2 linked regions of the Homo sapiens genome follow. The protein of the gene in region 2 purifies or fractionates together with the protein of the main gene of each other region. This does not show direct contact. Each region holds a gene or a part of one and is shown on either strand. Other genes may lie near its edges.

Evidence for each region. Proteins that work in one complex are often made in the same cells at the same time.
Region 1: the proteins of FLT4 (region 2) and SFXN4 purify together in Homo sapiens (affinity purification with mass spectrometry; one large-scale study listed by BioGRID and IntAct). This does not show direct contact.

What each region holds. Positions count from the first base shown.
Region 1 is NC_000010.11:119,159,215-119,162,860, reverse strand, and holds part of SFXN4 (sideroflexin-4), read left to right. Parts: intron 1-446; coding exon 447-521; intron 522-1,779; coding exon 1,780-1,806; exon of another isoform or gene 1,807-1,891; coding exon 1,892-1,946; intron 1,947-3,107; coding exon 3,108-3,133; intron 3,134-3,646. UniProt on the Homo sapiens protein: Mitochondrial amino-acid transporter. Does not act as a serine transporter: not able to mediate transport of serine into mitochondria.
Region 2 is NC_000005.10:180,622,080-180,625,725, forward strand, and holds part of FLT4 (vascular endothelial growth factor receptor 3 isoform 1 precursor), read right to left. Parts: intron 1,983-3,646; coding exon 1,856-1,982; intron 761-1,855; coding exon 652-760; intron 1-651. UniProt on the Homo sapiens protein: Tyrosine-protein kinase that acts as a cell-surface receptor for VEGFC and VEGFD, and plays an essential role in adult lymphangiogenesis and in the development of the vascular network and the cardiovascular system during embryonic development.

The DNA of each region.
Region 1 (3,646 bases), on a different chromosome or scaffold from region 2:
TCACACCACTGCACTCCAGCCTGGGCAACAGAGTGAGACCCTGTCTCTTAAAAAACAATAAGAAAAGAAAGAAAGAAAAAGAGAGGAAATAAGACTGAACTGATAAGACATGGAAGTGGGTGAGGGAGAAGGACTTCTAGGTTTCTGACATGTATAGCCAGGGGATGGTGGTAACCATTCAGTGCGACAGTTGACATCAGAGAGTGGGGGAGGTGACAGCACCATTGGGGGCAGCTGCTGGAGCATCTAGGAAGAGGAAGGCATAAATCTGAATGGCACTCAGGGCTATCCTAATGGATAGAGAGCCTAGGGCACCATGTGGCTTGAAATCAGGCATGCAGTCGAAGTCCAGTGCATGCTGGTGAGTGAGCTGGTGATTCCTACCTCTGGGGATAAACCTGAACAATGTTGAGATCATTACTTGATTACTTGATATCTGATTTTAGGAAAGTATAGAAAACTCGAGGCAACTATTGTGCACAAATGAAGATGTTTCCAGCCCTGCCTCGGCGGACCAAAGGGTATGTTTCACGTGCTCAGGTCTGGCTGGTTGCCCTCAGATGGTTCTGCCTGCATGGTCTGAAGTCAGGTGGAATTTGGCCATTAATCTCTGTCTCCGTCTCTTTTCTTTCTTTTTTCCTTCCCTTGGGAGCCACTGTTCTATTGGCTATTAATGCTGTCATTGTTATATACTGCCCAGAGGACCAGCTTTGCAAAACTGGGTTAGTTTTTTAAATGTAGTTAGAATTCTGTCCCATAAACCAGACAGCAAGTTTCCTCCTACACAGTGGATATTTGTGGGGATTCCCTGCAGCTGATTCCTGGAGCCCAGTGGCAAACCCCAGAATTCAGACAGGGCTCTGACGTCAGAATTCATTCTCCACTGCAGGCAGCGTTCCTGCCGATAGGCTCAAACGGACTGTTCCTTATCTACCTTGCAGTATGTGGGGCTTTCTGGAGCTCACAAACACCAGCTCCTCAAGACAGCCTATGGAGAGCTCACATATTTAACTTTTTCTAAGAATGTGCTGGGGACCCTGGGCTGACAGCTTGGCTCTGTTGCAAGTAACTTGACTGATGGCATGGTGTGTCATCAGCACACAGCCTGCTCTGCTCTGAGCCAGAGGCAAGCCGGATTCGGGGACTCATCTGAGGGATAAGTTAGGTGTTGGTATTCTCCAAGGGTAGAGACAGGACTTTTTAATGTTCTGGTCCATTTCTCTGTGTGGCTCGTCTCTTTGCTTGTCATTAGTTCATTTGTTTATTCATATGATCCATTTATTTTGATTTGTTCTGTCAATGTGGTAAATAACAGCTCTGGCCTTCACTCTCTGAAAGGTAGAACAAATGTGGTCCCAGAAATGAGACAGGCAAAGAAATTCTTTGCTGTTGAGCCACCTTTAAAAGCTTTTTTTTTTTTTTTGTTTTTTTTTGTTGTTGTTGTTGTTTTTTTAAGGCTGGGTGTGATGGCTTAACCCTGTAATTCCAATGGTTTGGGAGGATGACTTGATGCCAAGACTGCAAGACCAGCCTGGGCCGTATAGCAAGACCCCATCTCTACTAAAAATTAAACAACTAGTTGGGAATGGTGGCGTGAGCCTGTAGTTTCAGCTATTCAGGAGGGTGAGGTGGGAGGATCGTTTGAACCCAGTAGTTCGAGGCTGTTCTGCAGTGAGTGATGATTGTGCCACTATACCCCAGCCCTGGGTGACAGAGCAAGACCTTGTCTCTTAAAAAAAATTTAAAATGAAACAAAGCTATTCTTTTTTCTCCTTTAAGATACAAGAAGCTTGGAAGCGGAGTCTTGTAAGTTTCAGCCCCTTCCTAATTTTTAGTGTCCTATAATAACAAAACCAGACATCCAGCTAACCTTGCATCTCTCCTTTTGAAGGCAACAGTGCATCCCGACAGCAGCAACCTGATCCCCAAGCTTTTTCGACCTGCAGGTGAGTTGGTTCTAATTTTCAGAAGTGGGTTGGGAAGATGTAGTTTCTAACACTTAGAAAACTCTGCCTGCCGGATCACCTGGGGTCAGGAGTTCGAGACCAGCCTGGCCAACATGGTGAAACCCCGTCTCTACTAAAAATGTAAAAAATTAGTTGGGCATTGTGGTGGCACGTGCCTGTAGTCCCAGTTACTCAGGAGGCTGAGGCAGGAGAATTGCTTGAACTTGAACCCGGGAGCCGGAGGTTGCAGTGAGCTGAGATCATGCCATTGCGCTCCAGCCTGGGCAACAAGAGTGAAACTCCGTGTCCAAAAAAAAAAAAAAAAAGAAAAGAAAACTCTGCCTGCCTTGCTTTAATTATTTCTCCCCCAGCAGGATTTCTTTCTTTTTTTTTTTTTTTGAAACAGTGTCTTGCTCTGTCACCTAGGCTGGAGTTCAGTGGCACAATCTCGGCTCACTACAACCTCCGCCTCCCAGGTTCAAGTGATTTCTCCTGCCTCAGCCTCCTGAGTAGCTGGGATTACAGGTGCCTGCCACCATGCCCAGCTAATTTTTTTCCTTTGTGTATTTTTAGTAGAGACAGGGTTTCACTATGTTGGCCAGGCTGGTCTCGAACTCCTGACCTTCTGATCCGCCCACTTGGCCTCCCAAAGTGCTGGAATTACAGGCGTGAGCCACTGTGCCTGGCCATGTTATAGTAATTTTATGTACATACTTTATTATTATTGTCATTTTTAGAGACAGGGTCTCGCTCTGTTACCCAGGCTGGAGTACAGTAGCACCATAATAGCTCAAAGCAGCCTCCAACTCCCAGGCTCAGCTGATCCTTCTACCTCAGCCTCCTGAGTAGCTGGGACTACAGGGTCATGCCGCCACACCTGGCTTTAAATTTTTTATGGAGGTGGGGGTCTCGCTACCTCTACAAAATAGAGGCTGGTCTCGAACTCCTGGCCTCAACCCATCCTCCAGCCTCAGCCTACCAAAGTGCTGAGACCTTGACCCCCCACTTTATTAGAAAAACAAAGAATGAGTGGAAAAAGTCCTTTGAGGTCTGTGCCTTCTGGAAGCTGGGGAAGAGGTGTTCAGGTGGGTAGTCCCCTTCTGGCCCCCTCTGCCTGGGCAACTGTGATCACTGACACCTCCTCTCTTCTCTTCCTGCCAGCGTTCCTGCCTTTCATGGCACCCACGGTGAGCAAGCAGACATTTGCCGTTAGGAGACTAGGGGCTTGGGAAGATGGCCACTCTCCTCCTAACCTCAGCTGTGTCCCTCCAGCTCCGGACCCCTGTCACATGACTGCCTGATAGATGGTTGTGGATCCCCACTGATAACCCATGGCTGCTGTTCATACGTCCTTGTCCCCACTCCCTCCCCCTCCCCACACCCTCCCAGTCAGGCATCCGGGCCTCTGGAAGGCCCACAGCTTGGCAAGGTCATCCCTTTTCTGAACACCAAGTATGCGCAGAGCACGGTAGAAGCGGCCAGTGAGTTAGGATGAGCTCCCTGCACAAACCCCTGGCCACCAAGTCCTCCTCTGACACAGCCCCTCACCTGGGACCTGGCATTGTCCCTGTGAGGCTTTTCTCACCTTGGCCCTTGGGAGGTGCTTTTTGGTTTTTTGGGTTTTTTTTGTTTTTCGAGACAGAGTCTGGCTCTGTTGCCCAGGCTGGAGTGCACTGGCGCAATCTCAGCTCGCTGCAACC
Region 2 (3,646 bases):
CCTCAGTGGGACTTGAGTCCTCATTCTCTCTTGAAGCTTGCCATGCCCCACCCCATGCTCAGCCTGAAATAACGTGTTCCCTGGCTTTTCCCAGTGCCGTGCGCCCACTTCCTCTTGTCTCTCTGGTCACTTCTGGTCAGGCTCCTGTGGCCCCCCAGCCCCCGGGTGTTCTTTTGGGCTCCATCTCTCTGCTGGTGCCCTGATCTACATCTCTCTGCTGGTGCCCTGATCTACATTCTGGGACCCAGTGACGTCTGCTCCTGGGCTCCGCTCTCCTGAGGTCACTACCACATTTGAAAATCTGAGTAAACCACAGAGCTTCTCCCCAGAGCAAAATTCACACGAGTCACAAGGTCTCAGGGCTTGGGAAGGGGAGGGTGGGAGTGGGTATAGCTAGGAGGAGCTGCAGTGAGCCAAGGGCATCCTTGAGGGAGGAGCCCCAGGGTTGGGGACAGAGGATGCCATTCCATCCCAGTGCGCCAGCACCCAGGCCCTATGCTGGTGACCCTTAAATCTATTTTTCCTGTCTACAACCGGTAGGCCTTGGATCTCTCTCCTGGGTGTCCCAAAGACCCCAGAAACTCAATGAGCCCAAACCTGCCCCCTCCTGACCCTGTACCCAGGCCTCCCCGCCCTGGTCTGGTCACTCACTGGTCACATAGAAGTAGATGAGCCGCTCATCCTGGCCCACCTTGTTGGAGACCACACACTTGTACATGGCAGACACGTTGGCATTCTGGATCACCAGCTTGCTCACAGTCTGGGAGAGCACAGGCACAAGGATCCATTTCCTGCCCAAGTTCTCCCAACCTGGGCCCTGTCTTTCTGCAAGGAGGTCGCTGTGCACCACCCCCCCCAATCATGGGGGAAACTGAGGCTTTGGGCTGGAGAAGACCAAAACTCACAGGACCAGGGATAGTGAGGCAGAGGAGAGAAGGCCCCTGGGCAGCAGAGAGAGGTAGCTGCCCAGAAAAGTCAAGGGACAGTGTATGGACTGCTGGCCTAGGCTGCAGTGACGTCAGAGGGCAGCCTTTGGCAGGACCAGAGAGACCTCTGGCCGTGGCTATGTTGAGGGGGCACCAGCGTCAGTGCAAGCCAGGGTGAGAATTCAGCCTGGGTCACAGCAAAAGCCAGTCACTTCTGGATGGGGTCAGGCCCAATCCAGTCGCTGCTTGCTGAGATCCTCGTGAGATGGCCTCCTCAGCCCAGAACTGTCCTCAGCAGCAATCCCGAGGCCCAGGGTTATTGAGAGGGGTGGGGATGGCTCCCAGAAGGACTGAGGCCTCAGGGAGTAGGAAGCCTGAGACACAGGGGAGGAGAGAGGGCCACAGGCCCTGCCTACCATCCAAAGACCCCCACCCCCACCCCACCCCCAGCTGGGCACTTCCTGTCCAGGACTGGAACAGGAAGAGGCTCTGGAGGTGTGTAGGAAAACAGGAAGTGACTGGAGGAAGTAGGTGCCTTTGTTCAGTACCCCCTTCTCGGCGTTGCCCCCAGGCTGCGCCAGCGGCTCAGCAGCCCTCTGTGCAGACCTGGTCAGCCTCCAGCCCTGTCCCCTCCTGGTCCTGGGGCCTGTGGGCCTCAGGGGCTCATGGCCTGGCCAGGTGGCCTTGCATGTCAGCTTCCTTGTCTGGGAAGCCGCCAGAGGTCCGCCCTCCATCACAAAGCCGGAGACTGGCCCTCTGACCTTTCTGCAGGCAGGGTGGCCGAGGCCTACAGACTGCAGGAAGGTCACCCGCTCTCGGCTGCTCTGCCCAGCACTCTGGAAGCCAGGTGGAAACCACATGGCAGTAATGGCCTCTCTCTCCTCCCTTCTCCTTCTCCCTGGGCACTCAGCAGCGCGGCTGGCCTGTACCTTATTCTTTCCCTCCACAAACTCGGTCCAGGTGTCCAGGCTCTCGATGGGGTTCACGGCATCCTGCGTGGTCACCGCCCTCCAGTCACGGCACTGTGGCATGAGGTCTTGCTGCTGCCGCCGCCGGCTGCCAGGACCAGAAGAGGCAAGGGCAGGTCAGGGATACAGGCAGGAAGGGCCCACATGGGGGGCGGGGTCAAGCCCTTGTCATATCCAGTCACCTTCTCATATGGGGTCGTGGGCGAGGCTGGCCCTCGGGCCTGGGTGAGGGAGATGGGAAGGGGACTTTGGTGTTTTTTTTTTTTTTTTGAGACGGAGTTTCACTCTTGTTGCCCAGGCTGGACTGCAATGGCACAATCTCAGCTCACCGAAACCTCCGCCTCCTGGGTTCAAGCGATTCTCCTGCCTCAGCCTCCCAAGTAGCTGGGATTATAGGCATGTGCCACCACGCCTGGCTATTTTTTTTGTATTTTCAGTAGAGTCGGGGTTTCTCCATGTTGGTCAGCTGGTCTCGAACTCCTGACCTCAGGTGATTGGTCTGCCTTGGCCTCCCAAAGCGCTGGGATTACAGGCGTGAGCCACCGAGCCCGGCCTGTTTCTGGAGCTCTGTCTCCCACCCTTCAGGCTCAGGACCCGGCAACCCATCCTACACAGGCTGCCAACACCAGCTTCCTGTGCCCACTGTCCCTCAGGCACATGTGCACTCTGTCCCGCTTCTCTGTGCCCCTTCCTGCAGAGGCCACCTGGGATCTGCCCACATGGCTGCAGGCCCAGCACAGTCCCATGCTGCCCCCGGAGGCATCTCTGCCCAGCCTCTCCCTCTCTCCTGCTTTAGGAGCTGCGGCCTCCCTCTGGGCAGGGTGTGCATCCCCAGCAAGCTTGGCCTCCTGCCAGGATTGGGGGGGTAGTCTCAGGGCCCCAAGGGAGGCTCATATCTGCCCCTGTGGAGGAGCCGAGCAGGGACCCCCCGAAGGGCTCCATCACTTGGCACAGAGCATACAGGTGGCACACCCAGAAGGAAGGACATTTGGAGGTGCTGGCAGTGAGCTGCATGCCGCACGATCTAGAAGAATACCTATGAACCTTGGACATCTGGGGCCGGCTCATGCCACCCCTACTGAGCCTCCCCCACTGACCACACCAGAGCCACAGCCAGTGGGGCTACCCTCATCTCCCATGTAGGTTCCCAGCTCCCATCCCGCCCCAGTTTGATACTAGGAATCTCTTGCTAAAAGGCAAACCTGAGCCATGTCTCCACTTCTCAACACCCTTCACTGGCTCCCTAGTGCCTTCAAGCCCTGCCCACCTGGGCGTCCTCCTCTCACCCCCTGCTTGTCTAAATGTCCTGCTGGCATCCCGCTCAGTGGAGGGGAGCACGGCTCAGCAGGTGGCTGGGTCCTGTTGCTTACAGCTGTGCCCCTGGGAAAGCCGCCTCCCTTCTCTGACCCTATTTCCCTGTCTCTAAGGGGATGTGAGTGGTGCACAGATGAGCTGAGGCCCATGAGCACACATGGTGTGCCGTGGGGCTCAGTGCAACCATCCCAGGGGCTCAGGTGACACCCCCCCAGGTCCCCACCCCGCTGGAGGTGTCCTGCTGGGTGCTCAGAGACATGTGCTTCCTTCTCCCTCCAGATGATGCAATTACGTGTCCAGAGGTCTTCGCTCTTGAGGGAGGTGGGCAGGGGCCAGACCCATCCTGTGTCCAGCTTGGCCAGCTGATGGAGGATGGGTGCAAGGGAGGCTCTGAGCCTCACTCAGGCGAGGTGAGGCCAGGGATTGGCTATAGCTGAA